Linked DNA regions of Homo sapiens. The main gene of each other region encodes a partner of the protein of the gene in region 3 in a complex. Each region holds a gene or a part of one and is shown on either strand. Other genes may lie near its edges. The genes, in order: GID4, ARMC8 and RANBP9. A codon is read from its position in the direction of its gene.

Region 1 (7,438 bases), on a different chromosome or scaffold from region 3:
AGTTCAGATCATGCCACTGGACTCCAACCTCGGCAACAGAGTGAGACTTCGTGTCAAAAAAAAAAAAAAAAGGAGATAAGTGTCAAAAAAAAAAAAAAGGAGCTAAATGGCCTCTTAGCTACCTCACATTCACAAACAAGCACAGCTTTTTTGTTTGTTTGTTTTAATTTTTATTTTAGGCTTGGGTGTACATGCGCAGGTTTGATCTATAGATAAACTTATGTCACGGTTTACCTATGTAACTGTTGTGGAGATTATTTTGTCACCCAGGTATTAAGCCTAGTACTGAATAGTTATTTCTTCTGCTCCTCTCCCTTCTCCTACCCTCTACCCTCAAGTAGGCCCCATTGTCTGTTCTTCCCTTCTTTTTTTTTTTGAGATGAAGTCTCGCTCTGTTGCCCAGGCTTGAGTGCAGTGGTGCAATATCTGCTCACTGCAACCTCTGCCTCCCAGGTTCAAGCAGTTCTCCTGCTCAGCTTCCCAGGTAGCATGTACCACCACACCAGGCTAAATTTTTTTTTGTACTTTTGGTAGAGATGGGGTTTCACCATGTTGGCTAGGCTGGTCTTGAACTCTTGACCTCAGGTGATTTGCCTGCCTCAGCCTCCCAAAGTGCTGGGATTACAGGCTTGAGCCTATTGTTTCCTTCTTTGAGCCCATGAGTTCTCATCATTTAGCTCCTACTTATAAGGGCAGTATTTGGTTTTCTGTTCCTGCATTAGTTTGCTAAGGATAACGGCCTCTAGCTCTACCCGTGTTCACGCAAAAGACATGATCTCATTTCTTTTTATGGCTTCATAGTATTCCTTGGTGTATATATACCACGTTTTCTTTATCCAATCTGTCATTGATGGGCATTTAGGTTGACCCACTTTTTACTATTGTGAATAGTGCTACAGTGAACATTTGCATGCATGTATCTTTATAGTAGAATGATTTATACTCCTCTGGGTGTATACCCAATAATGGGATTGCTGGGTCGAATGATAGTTCTGTTTTTAACTCTTTGAGGAATTGCCACATTGCAAAACGGAGCTTTAAAGTTTGTTTTCATGCCTTCTGGAAGTGAAATTCTAGAAATGTAAAGAATAAATATGAAATAACATTCTTTTTGCACTTTTGAGCCATCCGTCAGTCAAGAGAGGCGACCTTTCCGGGGAACCCAGCAGCTTTCAGGGGTTACCTGGGAGCCCAGCCTTTGGGGGCCATGGGCAGGCCCCCCACTTACTCATTACTTGGGTTTGGAAGGGTTGGAAGCTCCAGCTGAAGTTGTGCTAGACTTGTGCTTAACTAGGGAGACAGGTCACACCTACCAAAACTCACAAAAACAAAAGTGCCAGTTTTTGTCAGAGAATGAGATTCCTGTATGTTCCAGAAGTTCCTGTTGACTTATTGGCCAATTGAATGTTAATCCTCCAGAAGACAGGTCTACATGGAAAGTCGTGGTACCTATCACCACACAGTTTTGGGTGAGCCTGGAATCAGTGGGAGGATTAGTTGGGGGACTTAAATGTCTGACAACAGCCAGACCCACCAAGGGATGCCCACTCCTGCTTTTGCTGCCTCTGTTATTCATTTCTCGATATCCTTTCTTCTGACATGGTTTTTCGTCCGCTCTATAAATTACCCCTCATTGGGCTGTAATAAAGTGCTTGAATTTCCTGTTCCTGCTCTGAGAATATTTTATCTTTTCAGTGACTTCTGTACACACTGAATCTCATTTATTAGGTATTTATTTTATTTAATTCTCAAAGTTTGAGGGTACCCTGTAGTTACCCTGATATACTGCCTAAAGTATGTTTACAAAGAAGTCAATGCAGAATTATTCATTAAGAAAACTAGTGATTTAAACCATAAGTGTTTTAATCATATTAGGACCTCCTCCCCACCCCTCCCTTTTTTAAAAATAGAGACCGGGTCTTACTATGTTGCCCAAGCTGATCTTGATCTCCTAGGCTCAAGTGATCCTCCTGTCTTGGCCCCCTAGAGTGCTGGCATTACAGGTGTGAGCCACCAGGCTTGGCCTTGTATTAAAACCTCTTTATCATTTCATCCTATCCCTTTCAAGGAAGTTCAGAAAAAAGATTAAAGCTTGAAACTCGGAAAAATAATATAAACAGTTTGTAGTTGGCTGATGCCTGTAATCCCAGCACTTTGGGAGGCCGAGGCAGGTGGATCACGAGGTTAGGAGTTCAAGACCAGCCTGGCCAAGATGGTGAAACCCGTCTCTACTGAAAATACAAAAATTAGCCACACGTGGTGGTGGATACCTGTAATCCCAGCTACTCGGGAGGCTGAGACAGAGAATTGCTTGAACCCGGGAGGCGGAGGTTGCAGTGAGCCAAGGTTGTACCACTGCACACCAGCCTGGGCGACAGAGCGAGACTCCATCTCAAAAAAAAAAAAAATAGCTTCTAGTTTAAAATCTCAAATGCAGGTGCTGATTTATTGAGAACTTTTTTCCTTAGTAGTCTTTCCTAGAACAGATTATAATTAAAAGTTAGTTTATACCGGCTGGGTGCGGTGGCTCACGCCTGTAATCCCAGCACTTTGGGAGGCCGAGGCGGGTGGATCATGAGGTCAGGAGATCAAGACCGTCCTGGCTAACACCATGAAACCCTGTCTCTACTAAAAATACAAAAAATTAGACAGGCGTGGTGGCATGCATCTGTAATCCCAGCTACTTGGGAGGCTGAGGCAGGAGAATCACCTGAACCCGGGAGGCAGAGGTTGCAGTGAGCCGAGATCGTGCCACTGCATTCCGGTCTGGGCGACAGAGCAAGACTCTGTCCCTCCCCCCAAAAAAAAAAAAAAAAGTTAGCTTATACCTTAAAAATTAGGTTTACATTTAGGAAAATTTCTCCTCTCTCATTTTTTCAGTCTATGTATTTAAATATTTATGTGAAGAATCCAGCAACAGTGTTAGGATAGGGGGGTTGTGGGTTTGGGGCAGTATTAGATTTATCATATTTTAAGTTCACTGTTAAGGAAACAGATCCCCTCCATGGTGTCATCCTAAAGCAGGCCTCCTGAGCCACCTGCAGCGGTGGTGACGTTCTGTTTCCTGGGAGCCTCTGCACCAGTGGCTTTTACTGTGGCAGCCTCTCTCAGGAAGGTCCTACACTACATGCAGGCCAGGTTGGTAGATGTGGCAAAGCCATCAGAATGAGGTTTTTGATGCAGAATAAGAGGGGCTTACATCTGATCTGAAGGAAAAACGTGGGCCTTCTGCAGTCCTTGATGTTAGGACTGTAATCTGTGGTTTTCCAGGCCAGTGACTCTCATAACCATGCTCCTGGCAGACACCAGGGGCTTGGCAAGGTAGCCTGAGAGGTGGGTGCTTGGTTGGTTTCTACAAATGCAGAGAAATGTAGACTTTTTACGGTGTTAACTTTTTGTCTTATTAATCTTTTTTAAAATCATTGGTGCCTACTTATTAACACATGAACAAAGAGCAATTAACAAAGCACCCAAGCCAGCACATGGCTTCTTGCTTACGTTTTCCACGGTGTGGTTTTTACATTCAGACATGATTTACATATGTTTTTCCTCATATAAATTGTTTTTAGTTCATATGTTTTTCCTCATATAAGTTGTTCTTAGTTCATGTGACAGAATTAAACGTATCCCTATGTATCAAGGTATTCTAAGACTACCTTCAGGGACCATTTGTATAGTTCATTACTAGAAGTTTCTCTGAACATGTAGAACACTGAAAAAAGTATTTACTTTTTTTTTTTTTTTTTTTTTTTGAGACAGAGTTTCACTCTTATTGCCCAGGCTGGAGTGCAATGGCGTGATCTCGGCTTACTGCAAACTCCGCCTCCAGGTTCAAGCAATCTCCTGCCTCAGCCTCCCGAGTAGGTGGGATTACAGGCATGCGCCACCACGCCCGGCTAATTTTGTATTTTTAGTAGAGATGAGGTTTCTCCATGTTGGTCAGGTTGGTCTTGAACTCCTGACCTCAGGTGATCCTCCCACCTCGGCCTCCCAAAGTGCTGGGATTACAGGCGTGAGCCACCATGCCTGGCCAAAATAAAAGGTATTTTAGGCTGGGTGCGGTGGCTCACACCTGTAATCCTCGCACTTTGGGAGGCCAAGGCGGGTGGATCACCTGAGGTCAGGAGTTCGAGACCAGCCTGGCCAACATGGCGAAACCCCGTCTCTACTAAAAATACAAACATTAGGTGGGCGTGGTGGCAGCCAACTGTAATCCCAACTACTCGGGAGGCTGAGGTAGGAGAATCACATAAACCCAGGGTGTGGGAGGAGGTTGCAGTGAACCGAAATTGTGCCATTGCACTCCAGCCTGGGCGACAGAGCAAGACTCTGTCTCAGGAAAAATAAAAAAGTATTCTACCCCAGAATCCACCCTGGAACCTTGGAGAATTGGTGTAAAAGGGACAAATGACTGAGCCAGTTGGAGAACCAGTGGCTTGAGGGAGCCTTAGTGGTAGACACAGTGATTTTGGAGCCTCTTTGGGTCTAACCTTGGAAAGTAAAATCTACCAAGTTATGATCTGCTTTGTATGCTAGAATATTAAAAATTTATTTGTGGAAACATCCAAATTATTTTCTAAGAGACTAGCATGTAACAATTGAAGTCAAAGAAGGGCTGTCTGCTGCTGGCAAAATCCAGGAAACCCTTCATTCTCTGGGTGATTTAGATTCAGGTCCATTGCCACAGCCTGTTGGCAAACTGGCTGCGATCTAACTCTGGTTTGGATTGTCAGGTAGCAGTGTCTAGGTACTGGAAAGAAGTTAAAGCAAAGTTTATTTTTCCTTTGTACAAAGGTTAAAAACTCTCACTCAACATCTTATTTTGATATTTGGGTTTTTACCATAGGAGTATCCAACCCTTACAACCTTCTTCGAAGGAGAAATAATCAGCAAAAAACACCCTTTCTTAACTCGCAAGTGGGATGCAGATGAAGATGTTGATCGGAAACACTGGGTGAGTAAATCTGATCTGTGCTGGGTCATCTAGGGGCTGCTAGAGAATTGAAGAAATGCTGGGAGCCAGAGACCTTGTCCCTTATTGAGGATTACTGGGGCTTTGCAACCAAGTAAAAGGTTGCACTGCACACAGACCTCAGTTGTTCCATCTTCCTTATGAGGACAGTTTAAATACGATCTGACCTGCTGCTTAAATAGCAAATGGTTGTCTGATGATAGCAACCCCAGAGTTCCAGCCAGAACTCTGCTCAGCTATCAGAATCTTAACAGTGTCCCCCCATCCTTCCCACCTGTTTGTCCATCTTCTGTCCACTGTTCCTTTCAAATCACCTCTGCTTGGGGAAAACCCTGTGAAACATGCAATGATGACCTCCGGCTTCGGGGCTGGCATGAGATGGAGATGATGTTGTGGGAATCTGCCTGCCCACTGGCTTATCAGGGCAGAGCCACATCATTTCTTTTTATCCTGGCTGCTGACAGACAAGTATAGTCTTGTCTTAAGTACACCACTATAAATCCTGCTGCCCCCCTTTTTAACTGTCAAGTGTAGAGCATTCTCACTCAGCAGTAGTGAATGCTTCAAGACAGTTAGTGTCCTGGGATCTTTTCATTTGTTGTCATATAAGTACCATGTCTTCAAAAATCAGTGTCTCGGCTGGGCGCGTTGGCTTGCGCCTGTAATCCCAGCACTTTGGGAGGCCGAGGCGGGCGGATCACCAGGTCAGGAGATTGAGACCATCCTGGCTAACACGGTGAAACCTCGTCTCTACCAAAAATACAAAAAATTAGCTGGGCGTGGTGGTGGGCACCCGTAGTCCCAGCTACTCTGGAGGCTGAGGCAGGAGAATGGCGTGAACCCAGGAGGCGGAGCTTGCAGTGAGCCGAGATTGTGCCACTGCGCTCCAGCCTGAGCAACAGAGTGAGACTCCGTCTCAAAAAAAAAAAAAAAAAAATCATTTTCTCAACCTAATAGCCTTTTGCTTTAGTTGACCATGGTGATGGTGAATTTTTGTTTAACATTGAAGAAGTTCAATGGGTTTACCCTCCATAAACCAACCAGAAATGGCTGTGTCAGTAGCAAAGATTCTAGAACTCGTTCTTCCCATTGCCTCTCACACCTGGCTATCTAAACTCTCCCCTGGTTCTGGCACAGCAGTCTGTGGAGAGAACTCCCGCAGACCCTTGTCTTGAGTTCACCTCACTAGAGATCAGTTGCTTTGCTTACTAATGTTTTTTATTTGTTTATTTTATTTAAAAAAAATTTTTTTTAGAGTTGGGGTCTTGCTCTGTCGTCTATGCTGGAGTGCAGTGGCATGATTATAGCTCACTATAGCCTCAACCTCCTGGGCTCAAGTAATCCTCCCACCTCCGCGCCCCAAGTAGCTAGAACTACAGGCACGTGCCACCACACTGAGCTCATTTTCTTTTATTTTTGTAGAGACAGAGTCTCCCTATGTTACCCAGGCTGGTCTTGAACTCATGATCTTAAGTGATCCTCTTGCCTTGTCCTCCCAAAGTGCTGGGATTATAGGTGTGAGCCACTGACCCAACCTGTTTTTTTGGTTTTTCTTTTATGGGGGTTTTTGTTTTGTTTTGTTCTGTTTTGTTTGGTTTGGTTTTGAGACAGAGTCTCAGTCTGTCACCCAGGCTGGAGTGCAGTGGCGTAATCTCGGCTCACTGCAACCTCTGCTCACTGCAACCTCCGCCTCCCAGATTCAAGTGATTCTCATCTCTCAGCCTCTCAAGTAGCTGGGATTACAGACGTGCACCACCGTGCCTGGCTAATTTTTGTATTTTTAGTAGAGACAAGGTTTCGCCATGTTGGCCAGGCTGGTCTTGAACTCCAGGCCTCAAGTAATCCTCCTGCCTTGGCCTCCCAAAGTGCTGGGATTACAGGCGTGAGCCACCATGCCCAGCCCCAAGCTGTTTTTTACTTGAGTAAAAAAAGGAGATCTATCAAATACTGAGGTTCAGTTAAATTTAAATTTAAACTTGAGCTTTTTAAAGCGTTTTTTGAATTCTATACATTTTGATTGTTGTAGCAAATGGACACTAAAAACTAGACAGTCATTTGTGTCTCTCTGTGATACAAGAGAATGCACAAGACCTGAGTATCCAGAAGGTTGGGGGAGCCCAAGTGGTGTATGAAGGTGCTGGCCACCAGCAGGTGGAGTTGGAAGGGCTCCCTAGTACCATCTGCGCCCACCCCTGCCCAGGGCTAGGCTCTTCCTGCATGGCTTGCTGCCTCACGAGATGGCTCCTTCCTCTCCTGTACAGTCCCAGAGTAGAAGGTTCTTCCTTGTAGTAAACCACAGCCTCTCTCCCATTCAACTCTATTTTCCATTTCATATTGGTCCTGCAAAAAGCAAAGTCTTTGAGGCCCAGTGACACTCAGTTTTAGGCTAGGTTGACTACAAATTAAATACTTGGAAAGCAACTCTTAATTTTCCCATTGACTTCCGTTAGAACATTGGAAGATATC
Region 2 (4,011 bases), on a different chromosome or scaffold from region 3:
TTTTTGTTCTTTTTTTTTTTTTGAGATGGAGTTTCACTCTTGTCGCACAGGCTGGAGTGCAATGGCACCATCTCAGCTCACTGCAACCTCCACCCACCAGGTTCAGGCCATTCTCCTGGCTCAGCCTCCGAAGTGGTTGGGATTACAGGTGCCCGCTGCCACACTCGGCTAATTTTTGTATTTTTGGTAGAAACAGGGTTTCACCGTGTTGGCCAGGCTGGTCTTGAATTCCTGACCTCAGGTGATCTGCCCTCCTCAGCCTCCCAAAGTGCTGGAATTACAGGTGTGAGCCACAGCACCCGGCCTACATTCTATCTTTTCCTTTCCACCTGGCCACCTTCTTCCCCCATCACCGTAACAACACACATCTCACATTGATCAGTTATGGTGTCATCAGGTGTGATGAGAAGAACAAGATGAAATTGTAGCCTTCTTCCACGGTTCTGAGGCATGTGAAGCATAAGACAGCCTCATCCCATGGGCTCTTGGCCCCTTCCATGCACCTTCTAATCACCTCAACACCATTTCCTCGGTCAGTTTTCTTATTTGCTTCCCAGAACCCTAAGTGTTCTCCCTAGTGTTGTGCCTCACTGCATAAAACCTACATGGCAGTAAGAAAAAGTAAAGAATGTAAGACCTATCACAACTATATGCCAGTGACAAAAGAAAACATAGAATGTCAGCACATACCAGGGACTGTGGAATGTCACTGAGCTGCAGCAGGTTTAAGTGCAGGAACAGCCCTCTGAGAGATCCACAGGAAGAAGAATATAGCCAGAGTAGATTTCAGGTGTCTACCCACTGCAGATCTCTTCCCCTTAAGGTAGGTGCCCACCTGGGCTCACCCCAATTCCCTCTGGAGATTTACTTTTTTAGACTTCCCCAGCTATCATCATTGAACCATAGGGTTTTTTACCCCAATTACAATTCTGAGATGATGGCTAACAGGAATTTTGTGATTTCAGGGCAAAGATGGCACTGCAGCAGTACCTGGCATGATGGGAGTGCCCCTGGGCACCTGCGAGCATCCCACCTCCTTGTTTAAGGAAGTACAGGAACCAGCCTCATTTGATTCCTTCTATTTGCACAAGTCACCTTGGACTGCAGGGAGCTGTTTTGCAAAAGCAGTTTAGTAGGCTTAGATCTCAAATTCATCTTGAGAACATTTTTTTGAGGTAGTAATTTCCTCAGAAGACTCTTGTGTTTTGTTTTGGTTTTTTTTTCTGAGCTACTCGGACTCTTTATTAGAACAATCAATCATTTTCCTTTGGACCTACAATTTTTGCCTATGCTGCAGCCACTTTGTGAGTGAGAATGAATATGTCTGTGTGAACACACAGGCATGCGTGTGTATGTGCACGTACATGGGCCAGAATGAATGGATGTGTGTGTGTGAGGGATACCTCAGATTTTTCTTTTCTTATTTTGTGTGAAAATCTCTTTTCTACAGATTTTCCAGGGTTTAAGCATTGCTTGCTGTATAAAAAACTTTACTGAATTATATACAGTTTGAATGAAATGTTATTTTAAAAACAAAACAATTGTTAAGTGTTCCATAAAGGTTATGTTGAATTTTGGTCAGATGAATATTTGTAAGTAAAAAATATATGCATTTCTGAACCTCAACTTACATAGATTTTCTTTATATAAAAAAAAAGAAAAAAAAAGAAAAAGTTGGCTATAGTTGGCCTGATTAACAGGCACTATACATGGTGCTGTGCAAAATAGTAAGCTAGCATCTTACTGCCGTCAATATTAGCAGGTACAGAGCCTTTTTTCATCCTAATTCAGTAAGTTCTCAGGCTTCCAAGTCAAATGGAGAAGTAAAGTGAGGCAACAGATTCACCATAGGCTTTTTGAAGCATCAAAGGGAAATATAACTACTGATAGTGAAAGCCCAGCCATGACCCAGATGGGCTTACCCTTGACAGGAACTGGGGACCAAGAGCCTCCCAATTGCCCTAACTCCTGTCATTGGTATTAGCAATATCTGGCCAGATTTAGAACCAGTCATGGAAACTTGTGCTCAAACTAAAAGTAGGTCATCACTTCCCAGAAACAGAATACCTTGTGCTTCCTGAAACAGCATATATCACTGTGAAACTAAAGAATATTCTACAGACACCCCTGTAGAAAGAAACAAAGAACAGGATAGTTTAGAAAGCTTTCTGTTAGCTGTATTCAGCAAATTTCATACTAGTTGCTCAGGACTGCTAGTTGGTATGCTTTTGTAAAACGAGATTGAAATTTAATAAAAGATGCAACTAAAATCTTTCCTGCATGAAGCTAAAAGCACTCAAGTTGAGAGAGGGGCAAGGGAATCTCCCCAGGATGACTGAAGATGACTTCTTTTTACAGCAAGTACTGTTAGCCTTTCTGCACCCCTTAGCTTGGCCCCTGCTCCAACTTCTGGGTCAGCAGCAAGGTGAACTCAACAGAAGTTGCTCTTGACTGTTTGAAGGTAGAAGCAGCCTACCTTTTCTCTTTGCTAAAAGAAGGTCAAAGGCTTCGCAACCAGGATGCAAGGTCTGCGGTCCAGAAGCTTGCGGTGAGTGTGTGCCACTGATGGAGCTCCAAGCCCACCCACCAGCCACTCCTGATGGGGTTGCTCACACTGCAGCTGCCCTATCACCACCCTGCACGTTCCTTGGAAGATTTAAATGTTTGGTTGCAAATGAATGTTTTAAAAATGTATTTAATGCAATTTTTCCTGCTCTCAACATGACCACCCAAGATTCAAACACAGAGACTTCCAAGTTACTATTTTTTCAGAACATCACCGATTTTAAAATCTGTCACAACAGGACTTGGTTTTGTGCAGATATCAGAGTGCTAATGTGAGAAACCCAGTTAAAAGAAAACTTAGTTTATTGGGAAGAAAGCCTCAGGCCCACTCGTTTCTAGAACTGTGAAAATATCCTTGGTTGGCATTTTTAACACAAAACACTATAGTGTTGGTATTAAATAGTACTAGGTAAATATAAAGAAACCAATAATGAATTGCTGAGACAATCTTGAACCCAAATAGCATTAGAAAGCTGAAGGCCCAATGAAATAACACTTTCACACTTAAACTCTGTGGATAAATTTTGCCTGTGGGTATAAACAGATGGTCAAATTAAAAATGCTTTACTATAATTAACTTTTCTGATTTGAATGAAGGGAAATGTATTTATTGAAACAAAGCTGTTTGCTGCTTTATGCAGGTGCAGTGTTCAGTCAGCAAGGAAGTGGGAAGAGTGGACATGGTATTGTGTCTACACCCAAGTTCTTAACTAAGCTTCTCGCTCTAATACTGCATTCTGTTTCTCCTTTTGTGCCCTGATTGTAATCCAAAATTTATGAACTAGAAAAGAATGTCCAATTTAATAAGTTGCATTTTTTTTTCTTTAAGCACTTTATTCAGAACAATACATGTTCTTCTGGTAGTGTTTGGATAATATGATTTTAACACATGCTAATAAAAGCCAAGAAAAATCATGGCAACTTCTAAAAAGGAGTCTGTTTTCCAAATGTCTAGAACATTAGGAAACATCAGAAGATAATGTGTACACGCTTTTGGAACCTGTGATTCTTGGTAAATGAAGGGCTGGGAAGTGGCTTTGCATTTCAGAGTGGGACCCAGTGCCTTAAGGTAAGTGTGGTTCCCAGAGGCATCTGCAGCAGTCTGGGGACCCCTCTCTTTTTGGCCTCCTTCTGAAGGCCAGCAGACCCTTCACAGGTGGCCACTCCCAGCCACAAGATATCCCATCCCCAATATCATGTCCACCCCCTCCATCCTCTTCTCCTTAGGTATGCCCCATCTCCACTACCACCAGCTTGCATCTCCACTACCACAGTATGCAAGAGCTTGCTATCCCTCTGCAAGGACACACAGGTGCTCTTCGTCTACTACGCACTGCCACCTTTTCCCATCTCTGAATTGTAGGCACATCTCCTATCTCAAGGCCTCACTGGAAACAAAGCCAAGGACACCTGCGCCAGAGTGGCGGGAGGATGATGAGGTGGCTA
Region 3 (7,845 bases):
CAGGGTTCCAACATAACAGGTGCTTCATAAATGCTGACTGAGAACTTTCCCAAACTTGGACCCTTTATTGCTATAGTTTACTAACATTGTTCAGCCATTTGTCATCCATTTGAATTTGCCACACTACGTGCAGAAATATGCTTACTCCATTCGTGTGGCATCAGGCTGCCTCGGACACTGGAGTGCAGCACGCATTGTGGGTAATAAAATGAATTTGTTGACTCCTAGGATTTCATTGCTAGTGACTTGGCTTTCATTTTTAGTGTTGAGAATGGTTTATAAGGAACGTTGATGTAATAGTCTGGAACAGGAATCACAAACTGAAGCCTGTAGGGCAAATCCAGGCTGCTCCCTATGTTTGTAAATAAAGTTTTGCGGGATCACAGCCATGCCCGTTTGTTTATGTATCATCTATGGTTACTTTCATTTACAATGGCAAAATTGAGTAGTTGCGACAGGTAACTATGTTCCGCAGAGCCTAAAATATTCACTATCTAACCTGTTACAGAAAAAGTTTGCTGATCCCTGGTCTAGAATCCATATTTGATGTGAATGTGGCAAGTGCAGTTCCCCAGGGTCACTGGAAGTTACAAGGACCCTGTATGAGTCAGTTTCCAAAGACGGCCTTCAATGATCCTCACCTTCTTGTGTTCATAGCCTTGTGTAATCCCCTCCCCTTGAATATGGGATGAAACTGATGACTCACTTCTAACAAACATATGGCAAAAGTGATGGGATGTCACTTCCGTGGTTGGGTTACAAAACACTGTAACTTTTGTCTTGCCACGATTGCCTTGGCTTGCATGCTTTCATGAAGCAAGCTGCCATGTTGAAGGTGCCCATGTGGCAAGGCATCATGGGCCACTTCTGGCCAATAGCCAACAAGAAACTGAATCCCTTAGTCCAGCAGCCCTCAAGGAACTGCATCAATGAGTGTGATAACCACATCAGTGAGTGTGAAAGTGGATTCTTCCCCAGTCAAGTCTTGAGATGACTGCAACCCCAACTGACACCTTTAATGCTCATGAGAGACCCTGAAGCAGAGGATCCAGTGAAGTTGTGCCAGATTCCTGACCCACAGAAAATGTGTGATAATAAACGTTATTTTAAGCCACTAAATTTGAGGATTATTTATTCTGCAGCCATAGATAACTAATCCAGACCCTAAAACCATACTATAGATCTTGGCACACATTGCCATAACATTTTCCAGTACTCAGAAGGATACTGTCATGGGCATTGACTGAAACAGGCTGGTCAGCATCTTACCTCTTTCCTAGTATCTTTCCTAGTATGGAAAATCCTCTACTGTGGGCACCAGTGGCCCTTTTCCACTAGGGCAATGTGTCCTAAACATTTTCATGTTATGCCATGCACAGAAAATAAGATGTGTATGGTACTCTGAATGCACAAGACTGCTCACTGTTGGAAGGGACCAGTTCTGGTGGCTGTAACCACTCAAGGCCCACCCTGAGCTGAAGTTATCAATAACGTAGCATCTCTGTAACCCAGTCACTGGATAACCTGGGAATCTCTGCTTGCTGGTGTATTCTGGCATGGGCACACAATCTAGGCTTGGTGACTTTGAAACTTGAGTGAGTGGTGTAAAGGCTGGAGGTCAGAGAGATAAGAGTCCAGGTGTTGAAGGTGACATCTGGCAGTGATTTCTGTGATCAGTGCTGGGGTCCAGGCCAGTCTATTTATGCAGCCTCTCCTCCTTTGGCCATTGTCAGTTTTCAGGCCTGCTTGTCCAGCCTTCTGGTCAATTCTGAGAACCATCTAATATCTTTCCAGTAAGTTCCTTTTTTGCTTAAGAGAGCCAGAATTGGTTCCTATTGTTCGATACTGAGAAACCCAGCAGATACAGATACTGGGTAATATTAGAGCAATACATGGTAAAGACTGAAAACATAGGTTCAAGAAGGGTGTGGATATGTTCATGGCTAATGGATTTTTACTATTTACATATCTATGTACAATTCTATTATTTTCATAATAAAAGTACATTACTTTTAATAATGCATTATAATTGTCCATTATGGAAACATTTTACAATTTTTCCTTCATGTCTTTTTGGTAATGATTTTGGCAGTGCTATAATTATCGTATTGCCTCTTTTCATTTAGCATATCATAATCATTTTTCTATGTCTTCAATAACATATTTTTAAGAGGCCATAAAATATTTGTTTCAGGCTGTGCCTGTGCAAGAAGCCTGGAGAGAGTGGGTCTGAAGGTGGGCCCAGGATCCACTAAGTCAAGAGGAAGGGGTGCCTTTTTCTAATTGGTTGACCTCTTTTGGCACTTCCACTGCCCAGAAGGGATACCTTAAAAAAAAATGGCACGAATGTGCTATATGTGCTCCTGTAGCATAACTCCACTGAGTGGGGTATGTGATTAGAATTTCACATGTGACTAGAATTTCTTCTAGTCTCTTCCGGTTGGGCATTTGATTTGCTTCTATATTTAATCTACCATTAATACTTCTTGTGGAACATTTTTCAGCCTAAAGTATTTTCATATTTAGATTGTGTTGTTTGGCTTTTTGATAGATAAGTCAAAAGGTATGAACTCCTTTATGTCTCCTTATAAATATAACCAAGTATGTAGCTTTCCAAAAGGACGTTATCAATGTTCTCTATCTCCTTCTATATGAGAAAGTACTCATTTCACAGCATCCTCCCCCACAACTGAAATCATTAATTTCTTGATGGAGAACCACCAGTCCCCCTTATAAAATGCTTCCAACAAAATGTTAGACAATTCTATTCCTTCAGCTGTTCCTAAGATACGGAAAGTTCTAGATAGTTCCTAAGTGTGCTGACAGAAAAAAAGTACATCTTCAAAAGTGTTTCAAGAAAGTTTAATGACGTCTGGAGCCCATTTATTCTAACATGGCTATCGTACATTTAAATAGAGCTTGGCTTACATTGAACTCATTGTTACTGTAATATAAATGAAAGTGTTAGAACACTGTAAATACAGTGACATCATGTGATTCAAAGTGCAGTGGTTTAAAAAAAGTCATCAAACAACAGGTTAAAATTAATGGATATTTCTATCAAACTACAACAGAGGCCAGGCATGGTGGCTCACGCCTGTAATCCCAGCACTTTGGGAGGCTGAGGCGGGTAGATCACTTGAGGTCGGGAGTTCGAGACCAGCCTGGCCAACATGGTGAAACCCCGTCTCCACTACAAGTACAAAAATTAGCTGGGTGTGAGCACATGCCTGTAGTCCCAGCTACTTGGGAGGCTGAGGCAGGAGAATCGCTTGAACCCGGGAGGCGGAAGTTGTAGTGAGCTGAGACCACACAACTGCACTCCAGCCTGGGCGACAAAACAATAATAATAATAATAATAAAAGTACAACAGAACATCTAGTTGTCTGGGTAACTGAGGGAGAAATTAGGCCGAATGACTCTGTTATTTGTTCTGGCCAGATAATCTTGGCCTTAAATTAAATCACCTTTGGCCTACCTTCTTCAAAACGAAATAATTTTCTCTTCGGCAAAACATTTCTTATTTGACCAAATGATTACCATCATATCTTTGGAAGCAAACAAAATATCAGAATTTACATCACACAATTTACATATGCAAAGCCTGATTTTGCCAGCTAGGGAGGGATAAGCTAAACAAAGGGAAGTGGTGAAAACAAAGTAGTAATGTTATGATGGGTCAGAGAGCAACACTTGGCAAGTTGTGCCAAATTAGTCGACGAAGCATTCTATTGGGAATTGCAAAGTAGGAAGTCCTATTTTTGACTCTGCTGATCTCGGTAAATATTTCCTTGTTTTAAAAATGGGCATAATTTTCTGTTACCTAAGAACCCTGTTATGAAAATTAACGAGTCTATAAAATGTTCTGACGTCTCTAGAAGCCCTTCCTAAACACACACTATAATCTTGTATTCATACAGTGCCTGCTCCTGCTTTTTGAAGATATGCCGGTCTTTATTAATGACATCTTCTACCACTGTTAAGTTCACTGTGAGTCCTCGTAAAATTAATTAATGAAACAGTCACTATTCTAAGTGGGAGACTGCCTTCAGAAGTGGTTTCTACTGCCCATATGGTCAATGCTACGGAATTAAACACTGAAGTACCAAAGGCAATGCGTTCCTCTTTGGAGGGAGGCGGCAAACGGGAACGGGACTGAGGCGAGAGCTAGCAGCACTGCGCGGGGAGCCTGAGCCGCTCCGCACGCCCCGGGCCGACGGGTCCTAGAGCGCCCCGGGGCCTGGGCTCGCGGCGGCCCCAGCGGGGCTCGATTACTCTCGCCTGGACGAGAAGCGGCGCCTCGGCTCCGAGGAGCCCTACGGTGGGGAGGTGGGGCGACGACAACAAAAAGAAGTCAAGTGGGAGGGGATTCGCCGGCGAGGGGGGCGACGGCGGCCGCCAAGGGAGAGGAGGCGGACACCTCCGAAGGGACCTGCGGCGCCGGGAGCCCAGCGATCCTGCCCACGAGCGACTGGCGGGCCCGGGAGGACGCCTCGCGGCGCACAGCCGGGAGCCCCGCGGCCCGCCCCCTCGCACCGCTCGCGCCTCTCTCGCGCCTCCGTCCCGCCCCCTCGCCTAGCGCCGCCCGCGCGCAGCGTCTCGCGCCGGCCCGGCCCGCCCGCCGGGAAACAGCCGCGAGAGCAGCGGCCGCGGCGGCCGCCAGCGCGCCTTCCCCTCCCGCGCTCCCGCGTCGCCCCCGCCCTCGGCGCCTCGTCCCCGGGCCGCGCGCCCGCGCTCCGGCCAACGTTCTCTCCCGGCCTCCCGGGCCCGCCGCCTACTCCCGCGTCTCCGAGCTCCTCAACCGCCGCGGTCTCCCTGGGCGCGCGGCCCGCCGCCTGCTTCCGGGGCGGGCGGACTGGGCGCCTGGTGCCGGCGGCCGCAGCGACAGCGCCCCCGGGAAGCAGAGGAGGAAGGAGAGAAGAGGTGGAGGTGGCCGCAGGCTGAGTCGCGGCCGGGATGTCCGGGCAGCCGCCGCCGCCGCCGCCGCAGCAGCAGCAACAGCAGCAGCAGCTGTCGCCGCCACCGCCGGCGGCCTTGGCCCCAGTCTCCGGAGTCGTCCTGCCGGCGCCCCCGGCCGTCAGCGCCGGCTCTTCTCCGGCCGGCTCGCCCGGCGGCGGTGCGGGCGGCGAAGGCTTAGGGGCCGCGGCGGCCGCCCTGCTCCTCCACCCTCCGCCGCCGCCGCCCCCGGCCACCGCGGCCCCGCCGCCCCCGCCGCCGCCCCCGCCTCCCCCTGCCTCAGCGGCTGCCCCCGCCAGCGGGCCGCCCGCTCCCCCGGGCCTTGCAGCGGGCCCCGGCCCGGCTGGAGGAGCCCCGACCCCAGCTCTGGTGGCGGGCAGCAGCGCCGCGGCCCCCTTCCCTCACGGGGACTCGGCCCTGAACGAGCAGGAGAAGGAGTTGCAGCGGCGGCTGAAGCGTCTCTACCCGGCCGTGGACGAACAAGAGACGCCGCTGCCTCGGTCCTGGAGCCCGAAGGACAAGTTCAGCTACATCGGCCTCTCTCAGAACAACCTGCGGGTGCACTACAAAGGTACTGGGCGTGTGTCCTGCGGTGGGAGTGGGGCACTGACCCGACGTGGCCGGCCGCCGCTGCGCCGCTCTCGACCCGCCCCCGACCCCCGCCCTCGCGGGCTCTGCCCTCGGAGGCCACTCGCCGCCTGTTGTGCTGCTCCGGGTGGGCGCGGGGGTCGCGGTGAAGGGTCCGAGGGTGAGGGGCGAGATTCTTGGAAAAGGAAGGTGAGTAGAATGCCCCAGGGTAGAAAGGAGCTGGTAATCCTAGACCAGGAGCAGGACACCTTGAGGGAATCCGGGATGACAGGACAGAACTGGCTTTCTGATTTCCCTGGGAGATAAATCTTGGGGCTTGGGTAGAGGAATCCATGGACTCGGAGTTGGGTTACATTGTTCTCCAGGTGGTGGGTCAGGCGTTCTCCTCTTACAAGGGGGGAAGAGAGGCACGATTCTGAGGTATGATTTCTAATTAAGAGAGAGCAGGGATACACAGGGGGAGGAGTAATCAAAATTAGGCCAGAGATTGTCTAGGGGGACAAAAGGACAAGGGGCCCAAGTTTGCCATCAATATATTTTAGTAAAAGCAACCGGGAGGGTAAGAGAAGGGAACCCCAGGAACACCCTTTTTCTTAGGGGAGCAGAAACCTACCCCTCCCGATTGGAAGTGCCCTATACAGGTCCTTAGGTGTTGATATCACATGAAGTCTTGTTGAAAACGAAGATGGAACAAAATGCAGCTTAGTATTTTGAAGAAAATTGGCTTATGTTTTGCACTTGCAGTTAAAAACAACAACCTTAGGCTTGTGCTTGCCCCTTTCCTCCCTCACCTACCTCTCCTAGGTTAAAACAAAGCTGGAAGCAAATCAGTTGTATATAAAATTATGAATTGCTATGGGAACTATTGAAATGTAGCCCAATTTAATAGCATGTATCAAGTTTACTTGTGTGGAAGAAAAAAAAATCAACCTAACGTATCAGTCTTGTCTGGAAACAAATCCAGGGTTTTAGGCCCCAAACCTAAAGCAGAAGCTTTTACATTCACGGCAGCCTCACTTTGATTGGCTGTAAAGGGGTCTACTCAGATCCTAGTGACATGTATGTAGAGGAGATAAACAACCTTGTGGTTAAATTCTTAACTTATACGGGACTGAAATTTGAGAAGAAGCTTGATAAGTAAGTTACTATTTAATCAGAAAGGCGAATGGCAATAGAAATCTACCAAATGATTTGGCTGCAAAGAATCACGCACAAAAATAGGCCTTGTTGAACATTCTTTTTATTCTCGCCATACATCCAAAGAAGTACTTCCAAGTGTTATCCTCCTTAATCTAAACGTCTGAACGTTTCATTCACAATATCAAATCTTTGTTTTTTCTCAAGTTAGGACCTTTTGTTAATTTCCTTGTGAAGTATTTCTACTTTTATGTTTTAATTTGTGTGAACGGTGCTATGTTATGAGGTGTTTACTTCTGATCTGGCTGCCAGAAAGCTATTGTTAGATGTGACAGAATTTTATAATTTTAAATTTATGGTTGACAGTAAATAATTTGCTCATAAAGTCAGAGCCAGTGTAGATGAACAAAGAATTCTAGATTTCCTGAGTTCTGCAGTTGTTTGTGGTTGTAGATATTTTACAAGACTGAGCCTCAGTTTCTTCCTCTGAGTGGTGTGTAAGTTGAGCTGGACGATTGGTAAGGAAATTTCCAGCTCTGAATTTCCGTGATGTCTAAGATTCGTGATTACTGTTTATTTAGTACTGTAAGGTGTCTTGATTAGTTTTAGTCTTTTACATAAAATTGATGATTAGGTCAGAGAAAAATACACGTTTATATGAAATTAGTTGGAGTTTGGAATATTTCTGACACTGCTGTCTCAGTTGTTTTTATTCTTGGCCTCTTTATTACTTTCTGTTGTGTAATACTAAGGTTCACTTTCTGGGAACATAACTGTTTTATAAACATAAATCATTATTTCTGGAAGAACAGATTTTGTTGTTATCCTTTTATTTTTCCTCTCTTCTATCTTTCCTTTGTCTCTCTCTTACCCCTTGTCAGAAAGTCTTTTTCCCTTTCTACTGCCTCTTCCTCTTGTCTTGTTACTGTAGACTGTGTGTGTGTGTGTGTGTGTGTGTGTGAGTTTTCCGTTGTTACTGTTGATTTTCTGCGTGTTTTGTGAGAGGACCACGCCGATTGTGGTGGGCAACTGTGTCCCAGTAGCAGTAGCAGTAGCAAAGGAGAAGTATCATAGAGAGTAGATAATACTTTAAAATCACAGAATAAGAAGAGTGAATTTTTATTTAACCTATCATTGTGCTGCATTGGTTTTACCTAAGTATCA

What was found.
Region 1: the proteins of RANBP9 (region 3) and GID4 are in contact, whole or in part, in a cryo-EM structure (PDB 7NSC), measured with the Homo sapiens proteins. Residues at the interface, in NP_005484.2 of Homo sapiens: Ser223, Lys224, Gly225, Arg226, Asp227, Gly228, Tyr229, Met230, Gly256, Asp257, Thr274, Phe275, Thr276, Thr277; in NP_076957.3 of Homo sapiens: Leu187 (codon at 4,907), Arg189 (codon at 4,913), Asp194 (codon at 4,928), Glu195 (codon at 4,931), Asn216, Asp218.
Region 2: the proteins of RANBP9 (region 3) and ARMC8 are in contact, whole or in part, in a cryo-EM structure (PDB 7NSC), measured with the Homo sapiens proteins. Residues at the interface, in NP_005484.2 of Homo sapiens: Tyr271, Gly298, His299, Ser300, Leu301, Gly302, Ile303, Asp337, Asp340, Tyr341, Arg343, Glu344, Thr347; in NP_001350870.1 of Homo sapiens: Gln245, Arg246, Asp247, Val277, Leu278, Lys279, Ile317, Ile320, Thr321, Asp322, His323.

Annotation. Positions count from the first base shown.
Region 1 is NC_000017.11:18,049,281-18,056,718, forward strand, and holds part of GID4 (glucose-induced degradation protein 4 homolog), read left to right. Parts: intron 1-4,846; coding exon 4,847-4,954; intron 4,955-7,422; coding exon of another isoform or gene 7,423-7,438.
Region 2 is NC_000003.12:138,294,894-138,298,904, forward strand, and holds the end of ARMC8 (armadillo repeat-containing protein 8), read left to right. Parts: intron 1-965; coding exon 966-999; 3' UTR 1,000-3,480; downstream 3,481-4,011. UniProt on the Homo sapiens protein: Component of the CTLH E3 ubiquitin-protein ligase complex that selectively accepts ubiquitin from UBE2H and mediates ubiquitination and subsequent proteasomal degradation of the transcription factor HBP1.
Region 3 is NC_000006.12:13,708,617-13,716,461, reverse strand, and holds the start of RANBP9 (ran-binding protein 9), read left to right. Parts: upstream 1-4,626; 5' UTR 4,627-4,956; coding exon 4,957-5,527; intron 5,528-7,845. UniProt on the Homo sapiens protein: May act as scaffolding protein, and as adapter protein to couple membrane receptors to intracellular signaling pathways. Acts as a mediator of cell spreading and actin cytoskeleton rearrangement.